Homo sapiens: one gene and its partner. The protein of the gene in region 2 purifies or fractionates together with the protein of the main gene of each other region. This does not show direct contact. Each region holds a gene or a part of one and is shown on either strand. Other genes may lie near its edges.

Region 1 (3,500 bases), on a different chromosome or scaffold from region 2:
GGTGGGCGCTGAGCAGAGCAGGCCTGGCCGAGGCTGGGGGCCACTGTGCACTGAGGCCAGAGGAGCAGGGTGGTGGGGGCAGCTTTGGAAAGGGACTAAAAAGGGCCTGAGAAGAGACCACTCTGGAAAGGTGCATGTAGAGGCCATGATCAAAACAAAAAAATCAAGTTTCCTACGTTCATGATAGCATTTGGCTGACAATGAGTTATAAATACTTGGATTCTATCTTCCAGATAAAAACACCTTCCAGGAAAGGGCACTCACAACAGGCGTGCCCAGTTCCCAGTGGGGAGGGTGGATAAAGCTAAGTGTTTCCGCTTCACCACTGGAGGACGGTTCTATGTGGGCGGTCCCATGTGGGCGGTCCCATGTGGGCGGTCCCATGTGGGCGGTCCTATGTGGGCGGTCCTATGTGGGCGGTCCCATGTGGGCAGTCCTATGCGGCGTTGGTGTCCTGGGCCCTGTGAGCTCTGCAGGGGTCCAGGGAAGGAAACTGGGGGTGCACACTCGCTGGCACTCCAGGACAAAATGCAGAGGGGGCATGAGACAGTCATCCTGGCACAGCCCTCAGGAGGGAACTGGAGGGACAACCCTGTGCCCTGCCACGGGCTTCCCAGAAGCGGGGTGGGGAAGGCGGCCCCAGTGCTAGGCCTGGTCCTCCAGCTGCGCCACGGCCTGCTTCAGGTCCTGCACGACGAGGTCCACCTCGGCCCTGGTGGTGCTGCGGCCCACGCTGAGCCGGAGCGCGTTCCTGGCCACGTCGAAGGGGACACCGTAGCTCAGCAGCACTGGGGACGGCCTGGGGAGGGCGAGACCGAGCTGCAGCTGCTGCTGAGGGCACATGGAAGAGACACAGCCCCCCCTGCTCTGGACCACTCCCCTAGTGGGGCTCTGCCCACCCGGATGTGCGCCTGCCTCGCCTGGCATCCACCTCCTGCTAAACTCCCAGACCAAGCACACCCCTAAGATCACCCACATCAAGGTGTGGCTCAAAGTCGCCCCCGTTCTCCCTGCAGAGTTCTCTTGCACTTGGCACTCCCAGGTGACACTGCCTCCCTCTCGCACTGAGCTCTGGGGCCAGGGGCTCTCCTGTCCTTGAGGGGTCTGAGGTCCTGGAGAACACGGATGCCGACACAGACAGTGCCTTACCCATGCGGCCCACCTGAGCCACTTGGTAACTTCATGGCACCTAGCATGGGGCTTTGCAGACACTAGGGACCCAGTCAGTATCTAGCCATGAACAGATGACTGCGTGGGGACATCCTGAAGCAAGGCTGTTGGAGGCTCGAGATGTGGGCTCTGTCAAGGGGCCTGACCTCATCACACCCGGGTCCCTTTCCTCCCCTGCCCCTCCTGCAGCAGGGCACTGTCCCCCCAACAAAGGGCCCCATCCTGCCCCTCCTTTTCCCTGGAGCCAGGCCCACCACTGTCTCGCTCCAGGTGCTCCTGCACAATCCCTCTGCCCTGACCTTGATGGCCACGTGCTGCTGGCTACAGTTCCGCTCTCTCCCCAGAACCCTGAGTGTTCCTCCTGCGTCCACTCCGACCTCCCACAGGGGCCTCACGTTTTCAGCAGACCAGACCCAGAACCACTTCTCCCCTGCTGCCAGCAGGCCGCTGCTCGGGCACCCCACGCCCTCTACCCCACAGTCTCCGCCAGGCAGCCCACCCGCTCACCCGGGCCCTGCTATCTGAGAATCTCTGCTGCATCTTGCAGATGGCTGATCTGACACCTGAGTCTGCTCACACCATGGCCCTCAGGGCTCCCACTTCCATGAGGTTTAAGTAAGCACTGACACTCAGGCCATCCCCACCCCAGCCCACCCCAGCCCGCCCCAGCCCTCCCCAGCCCCGGCCACGCTGGCCCTCCAGGCCCTGCCCTCCCTCCGCCTTCAGAACTGAGCACGAGAAGCCCTCTTCTCCCGCACAAGTCCTAGTCCTTCAGATGGCAGCTTGGAAGTCACTTCTTCCAGGAAGCCCTCCCTCTGCCCCTCCTAGGGCCCAGACAGGGCTGTCCTTCACCAGCCAGAGTGCGGCCCAGTGGCCGGATCCTGCCGCCTGCCCACCACACCCAGTGCCCGGAGGACCCCTATGCCCTGGACTGGGTTTGTGAAGAGCACTTACTGGTCCCCGTGGTCCGAGTGGCACGCGGCCCCCACACTGGCCATCAGCACTCGGCACTGCGCAAGCACCACGTGGCCTGCGGAGACAGAGCACATGCCCCTGAGATGGGGCTCCAGCCAGGTTGCCCTTCTGTCCCTTCCCGGGGTCCTGCTGGGCGCAGGCTGCTTCCCTCCCTCTGTGCCACCTGGTGGAATTCCAGCACTGGCCATTCTGGCAGCTGGGGAGAGATCTCACAGCAGGAGCCGAAGAAAACGCTTCCTTTCTCCCTTGGCTGCACAAACGCAGACACTATTCTGCCTCACAAAGCTGGCCTTGAAAATCGCATTTGTAATCAACTGCCTGCTAAGACACCTGGAGTCCTGACCCGCTCCTTCCTTACAAGCTGGCAGCCCCGGCAATATCACGTCTCCACCTGTGTTCTGGATGGTAGAGACACGTGGGAGTTCTATTAAGCCAGAAGGCATTTCCCTCTTCTTTCACAAGCACAGCCATTAATGACTGCTGATGTAATTAACCTGAGAATTTCAGCCAGGTGCAGTGGCTTACACCTGTAATCCCAGCACTTTGGGAGGCCAAGGTAGAAGGACTGCTTGAGCCAGGAGTTTGAGACCAGCCTGGGCAACACAGGGAAACCCTATCTCTACAAAATATTTTTTAAAAATTAGCCAAGGCCGGGCATAGTGGCTCATGCCTGTAATCCCAGCACTTTGGGGGGCCAAGGTGGGTGGATCGCCTGAGGTCAGGAGTTCGAGACCAGCCTTGCCAACATGGCAACACCCCGTGTCTACTTAAAATACAAAAATTAGCCCAGCGTGGTGGCAGGCACCTGTAATCCCAGCTACTCTGGACGCTGAGGCAGGAGAATCGCTTGAACCCAGGAGGTGGAGGTTGTGGTGAGCCGAGATCATACCACTGTACTCAAGCCTGGGCAATAAGAGTGAAACTCCATCTCAAAAAAAAAAAAAAAAGTTATCCAGGTGTGGTGGTGCATGCCTGTAGTCCCAGCTACTAGGGAGGCTGAGGCAGGAGGATCACTTGAACCCAGAAGGTCAAGGCTACAGTGGGCTGTGATTGCGCCACAGCACTCCAGCCTGGGTGACGACAGAGTGAGACCCTGAATCAAAAAATAAATAAATAAAATGAGAACCTCTGTCTCATTTAAAGTAACACAGGTTGTCACTGAACACAAAGTCTGACCCCAGAACAAGGGGAACGTTGACAGAGAACTCTCCTTTCCATGGTGAGGAATTTGAGATGGTCAAGGAGACCCAGGCTTCACTGCCCACAAGAACGCATTTCAGCCCAGGTTCTCATGAACGCAGCCATCATGACGGTTACCCACGGGTTCTTCTTCATGGGCCAAACACGACTGCTGG
Region 2 (4,196 bases):
ACGTGGCCTGGCCGAGGCTGAGAGCCGTCCTACCCTGGATAAGCCCACCCTTTTCCAAAGGCTGATCCTGGACCGGGGTGGGAAGTAGCTCTGTCGTGGCATGGAGAAGAGTCGTACGGTTTGTTGAAAAGAGCCCCCACTTACTGGCTGTGAAAACACTGGCCAGGAGCCTAAACCTCCCATCCATGCATTATATATTCATTTATCCATTCATTCAGCCAACATCTCCTGAAAGTGACTCAGTGCCCAGCCAGTGCTAGGAGGCACTAGATGAAGAAACGAGGAGCTGCCCCAGCCACGGCAGCTTCAACGTGTGAGATCCACCTAGAGCCAGGCAGTGACGGGCTCCATCCACCGGCTCCCTGACTCTGGACCTTCACTGATGTAATTCCTGTAAGGCACATTCTTCTGAAGTACAGTTCCCAAGTCAGAGGGTCCTCAGGCCTCATTGGAAATGTCCAAATGTCTGGAGGCCGTCCTCTGTAAAAACACCTTTTCCTCCTAGAGTCTGCCTGAGGATGCAAAGACAGCATTTGTGAAAAGCAGGGGCCACGGGGCCCAGCGAGCAGTTAAGTGCTCCGCAACTGGAAATCGATGGCCTTGCTAACAAGCACCCAGCTGCCCCTCACACATAGTCACCACCCTTTTATCCCCTTTTGTTGCTTCCATGGCAATTACATTGCACGTATGCGCATTTGTTGCAGTTTTTCTCTCCCTCACTCCCCATGTCCCAGACTGAGGCTGGGGGAACCTGGTCACGGGTCTCTTGCTCCTCCTGAATCACCAGGGCTTGGGGTGGCTTTAGGAACGCCAGCACTCATACCATGGACTGCACTGCGGAATGGCTTCACATGCACTTAATCCCGGGCGCAGCACCGGCAGGCAGGCGGTACTACTGACACGTGCTACAACATGGATGAGCCTTGAGGACATTATGCCGAGTGAAATAAGCCAGACACAAAAAGACAAACATGGTGCTTGTACTACTAGGCTCATATTATAGACGAAGAGACCCAACCCAGAGAGGTTAAGCAACTTGCCGAGGGCACAGAGTGGAAAAGCGGCAAAGCCGGGATTCGAACCCGGGTGTCCGGCTCTCCAAACTGGCGGTGGATGGCGGCTGCCGGAGCGAGAGTGCTGGAATGAATCGATACGTCAATCAGTGAACGGGCGACGGGGTCAGTCCAGTCCCCTCCCCCGGCGCGGCGGCTCAGCACCGGGACAAAGGCCGGGCGGGGGCCGGACGTGGCCGGCGGGGTTCGCGCGCGGTGGGCGGGGGTCGGGGCCGGGCCCTTTAAGGGGGGCGGGCCGGCGGCGCGGGGGGCGGTGCGGGGGGCGGTGCGGGGGGCGGTGCGGGGGGCGGGCCGGGGGCGGGCGGCGGCGGCTGGGCCCGGCTGGAGTGCGCGCCGAGCGAAGGGCGGCGGCGGTGGCGGCGGCGGCTCGTGCTCGGCCCCGGCTGCGATTGCGCTCAGCTCCAGGTTCCCTGCCCGCGGCGGCGCGCCCCCAGCGCTCCCTGCACCCCGCGCCACCCGCACCCGCGCTCGGCCCGCTGCGGGCGGAGGAGCGGCCATGCCGCCGCGGCGCAGCATCGTGGAGGTGAAGGTGCTAGACGTGCAGAAGCGGCGGGTGCCCAACAAGCATTATGTGAGTGCGGCGCGGCCCCCACGCCCCCTTGAGCCCGCGCCCCGTCGGGGGCGACCGAGGGCCCCCGGCTTGGAAAACTTCTGCCTCCAGCGCTTCCCGTCCCCTCCTCCCCTGCTCTCCCCTCGGCTCTGCGGCGGCGCTGCCCGGGTCCCTCCCGACTCCTCCTCCCTCCCTCCCCTCCCCTCCCCGCTTTTGCCTCGTTCTCCCCCTCCATCCCTTCCTCCCGCCTCGCCCCCCTACTCGCCTCCCTGCGGCTCCTCTACCCCTTTCTGTCTTCTCCGTGTCCCCCCAACTCCCGTCCTGCTCATCTGTGGAAAAGTCTGGCTCCAGCCGGTGAGGGGTCTGAGACAGAAAGCGGGAGAGACAGAAGTGCCTGTTCTCAGGCCGCCCGCCTTGCCCCTCCTTGTCCAGAGGCGCGCAGACCCGCAGTCCCCAGCCACAGGTAGCCCCTCTAGGGTTCGCCGAATTTGACTCCGTTCTTTGGCAAGAGCCGGCCTGGGCGATGGAGGAGATCTCTGGGAATGGATCATTTGAGTGGCTACGCCTTTAAAGGGTTAAAAACATCCCCTGCCCCCTCTCTCCAGTAACTTCTGTTTTAAAATGTACGAAAGTTTTCTCCTGGCATCTCCCTCTGGAACATGGGAATCTTGTTTGGAGCTGGCAAGGACTTGAGAAAATGGGACAGTAGCGTCGTTTTGCAGATAGGAAGGCTGAGGCTCAGAGGTTGCAGGTCCTGGAACATAGAGCTGCATTCGGGCTTCCCTCCCTCCAGCAGGGGTGCCTGGGGCTGACGGTGACCTGCAGGTGGAAAGTGGCTTCCGCAGCAACCTAGGGGACACGTCTGCAGATTCAGGAGGCCCTGGGACCACCTCGCAGGTTCTAGGTGGAGATAAAGGGGATGTGGGGTGATGGGCCCACATGAGGCCTTGGGGAGGGCCTCATTACAGCAGGGAAGGGGGCTATAGTGTCTCTGGCGGTGAGAAGTGGGCAGTGGCGGAGCCTGGCTGCAGAGAAGTTAACCAGGAAGGGAAAAAGAGTAAGAGGGAGGGAAAAAATCCTAACAAAGAAGTATAGAACAATGAATAGAAAAGGGCGTTGGCTGGCTAAATTAAGCTCCTTGGCCTCCCTGGAAGTCGTCTTCAGATCTTTTTTTTTTAAGAACTAATTCTTACAAAGTAGATCTGCATGCCTTCCGTGAATAGCCTGTGAAATTCTGAAAGGAGATAGCCGGGAACCCACTCCGCGCTCTCCACAAGAAAGGGTGTGCTGTGTGAGTCTGTATTGTTATTGGCTGGGCAGCCAGTTATTCAGCCCTTAGCCAGGCGGTGGGAAGCTATTTCCTGGACCTGTGGCATCTTTATATAGAGTGAAGTTTCCCTTGATTCCAGAGCTGAGCTAAATTGTCTTTTTTTTTTCCTTCCTTTTTTTATTTTTTGTTAACTGTTTTCAAATGCTGCCAAATCTTAGTTTCTTGTTTGAGCCTGTTAGCGTGTAAGTGAGTTTGCCTCTTTGGCATGAAGACAGTTTTCACCAACATGGCAACTGGAGGAAGTCTGGAATTCTCCATGCCACCTCCCACCAGGTCTGTGAGCTGGCAAAAACGAGAATAGATACTGCCACCGAGGCCCGGCCATCATCGTCCACGCGCCCTCTTCTGGCCTCTCCTATCACGCCCATATCAGGCAGAGGGCCTTAAGCCCATTTGACAGATGAGGAAACCAGGGCTCAGCAAAGTGAGGTCCCACGCCTAAGGTCACAGTCAAGAGCCAAGCAGGGATGTAGATCCAGGCCCGCTGGACCCCAAAAGGACCACACCACTTCCCACATCCGGTACCCCTATAGTTTCTCTGAGCAAAGTCCTCTGAAAAACTGGGAAATCTCTCTTATCATTAGTGAAAACCTGGAAGCTTTTCATTCTCTGCTGTGTCAGCTCCATCCTTGCCAGTTTTTTGAAGGTTTTGCGCTTTGAGAACCGTCTTTTGAAGCTTTCAGCCACTTTTTGGGGGCCCCCTGAGACAAGTTTCTATGTTAAAACATAGATTGGGATTCAGATCTTGGCCTCCCAGGTTGTAGCTGTGTCACCTCAGCCTCAGTTTTTTCATCTGTGTAATGGGGATGGTGGTGTCCATTTCCTAGAGGTAGCAGCCGCATGACAGGCTGCCTTAGGGCATTCCTAAATGCCCTAAAGGCATAGCTCCCTGCCTGCCTGTCCTGAGGTATCTTGTCACTGATTGGGAACATGCCAAAGTCACATGGTAGGGGGATTCATCAAGAACTTGTTTTTCTGCATGTGGCTTTAGTCACTCATGTGATTCAAGAGGCCCTCTCCCTTCTAGCCCAGGCTTCTGGGTTCATCAGATGAGGAGGGGCAATGGGCTGAACTGAAGCCTGAGTCATCCACAGGAACAGAGAACATTTACTGCCTTGATGGCAGGGGGGCCAAACCCAATGGAAACAGATCCCTGTGGTGGGCGACCGCTGCTGTTCCCAAGCTCCACCCCAACCCCTCACACAATCTGGAAAGAGCGGGCATGAAGGCAGCTATTGGCAGG

What was found.
Region 1: the proteins of SH3PXD2B (region 2) and SCLY fractionate together in Homo sapiens (co-fractionation; one large-scale study listed by BioGRID). This does not show direct contact.

The regions. Positions count from the first base shown.
Region 1 is NC_000002.12:238,095,501-238,099,000, reverse strand, and holds part of SCLY (selenocysteine lyase), read right to left. Parts: intron 2,201-3,500; coding exon 2,125-2,200; intron 800-2,124; coding exon 646-799; 3' UTR 1-645. UniProt on the Homo sapiens protein: Catalyzes the decomposition of L-selenocysteine to L-alanine and elemental selenium.
Region 2 is NC_000005.10:172,451,726-172,455,921, reverse strand, and holds the start of SH3PXD2B (SH3 and PX domain-containing protein 2B), read left to right. Parts: upstream 1-1,396; 5' UTR 1,397-1,569; coding exon 1,570-1,644; intron 1,645-4,196. UniProt on the Homo sapiens protein: Adapter protein involved in invadopodia and podosome formation and extracellular matrix degradation. Binds matrix metalloproteinases (ADAMs), NADPH oxidases (NOXs) and phosphoinositides.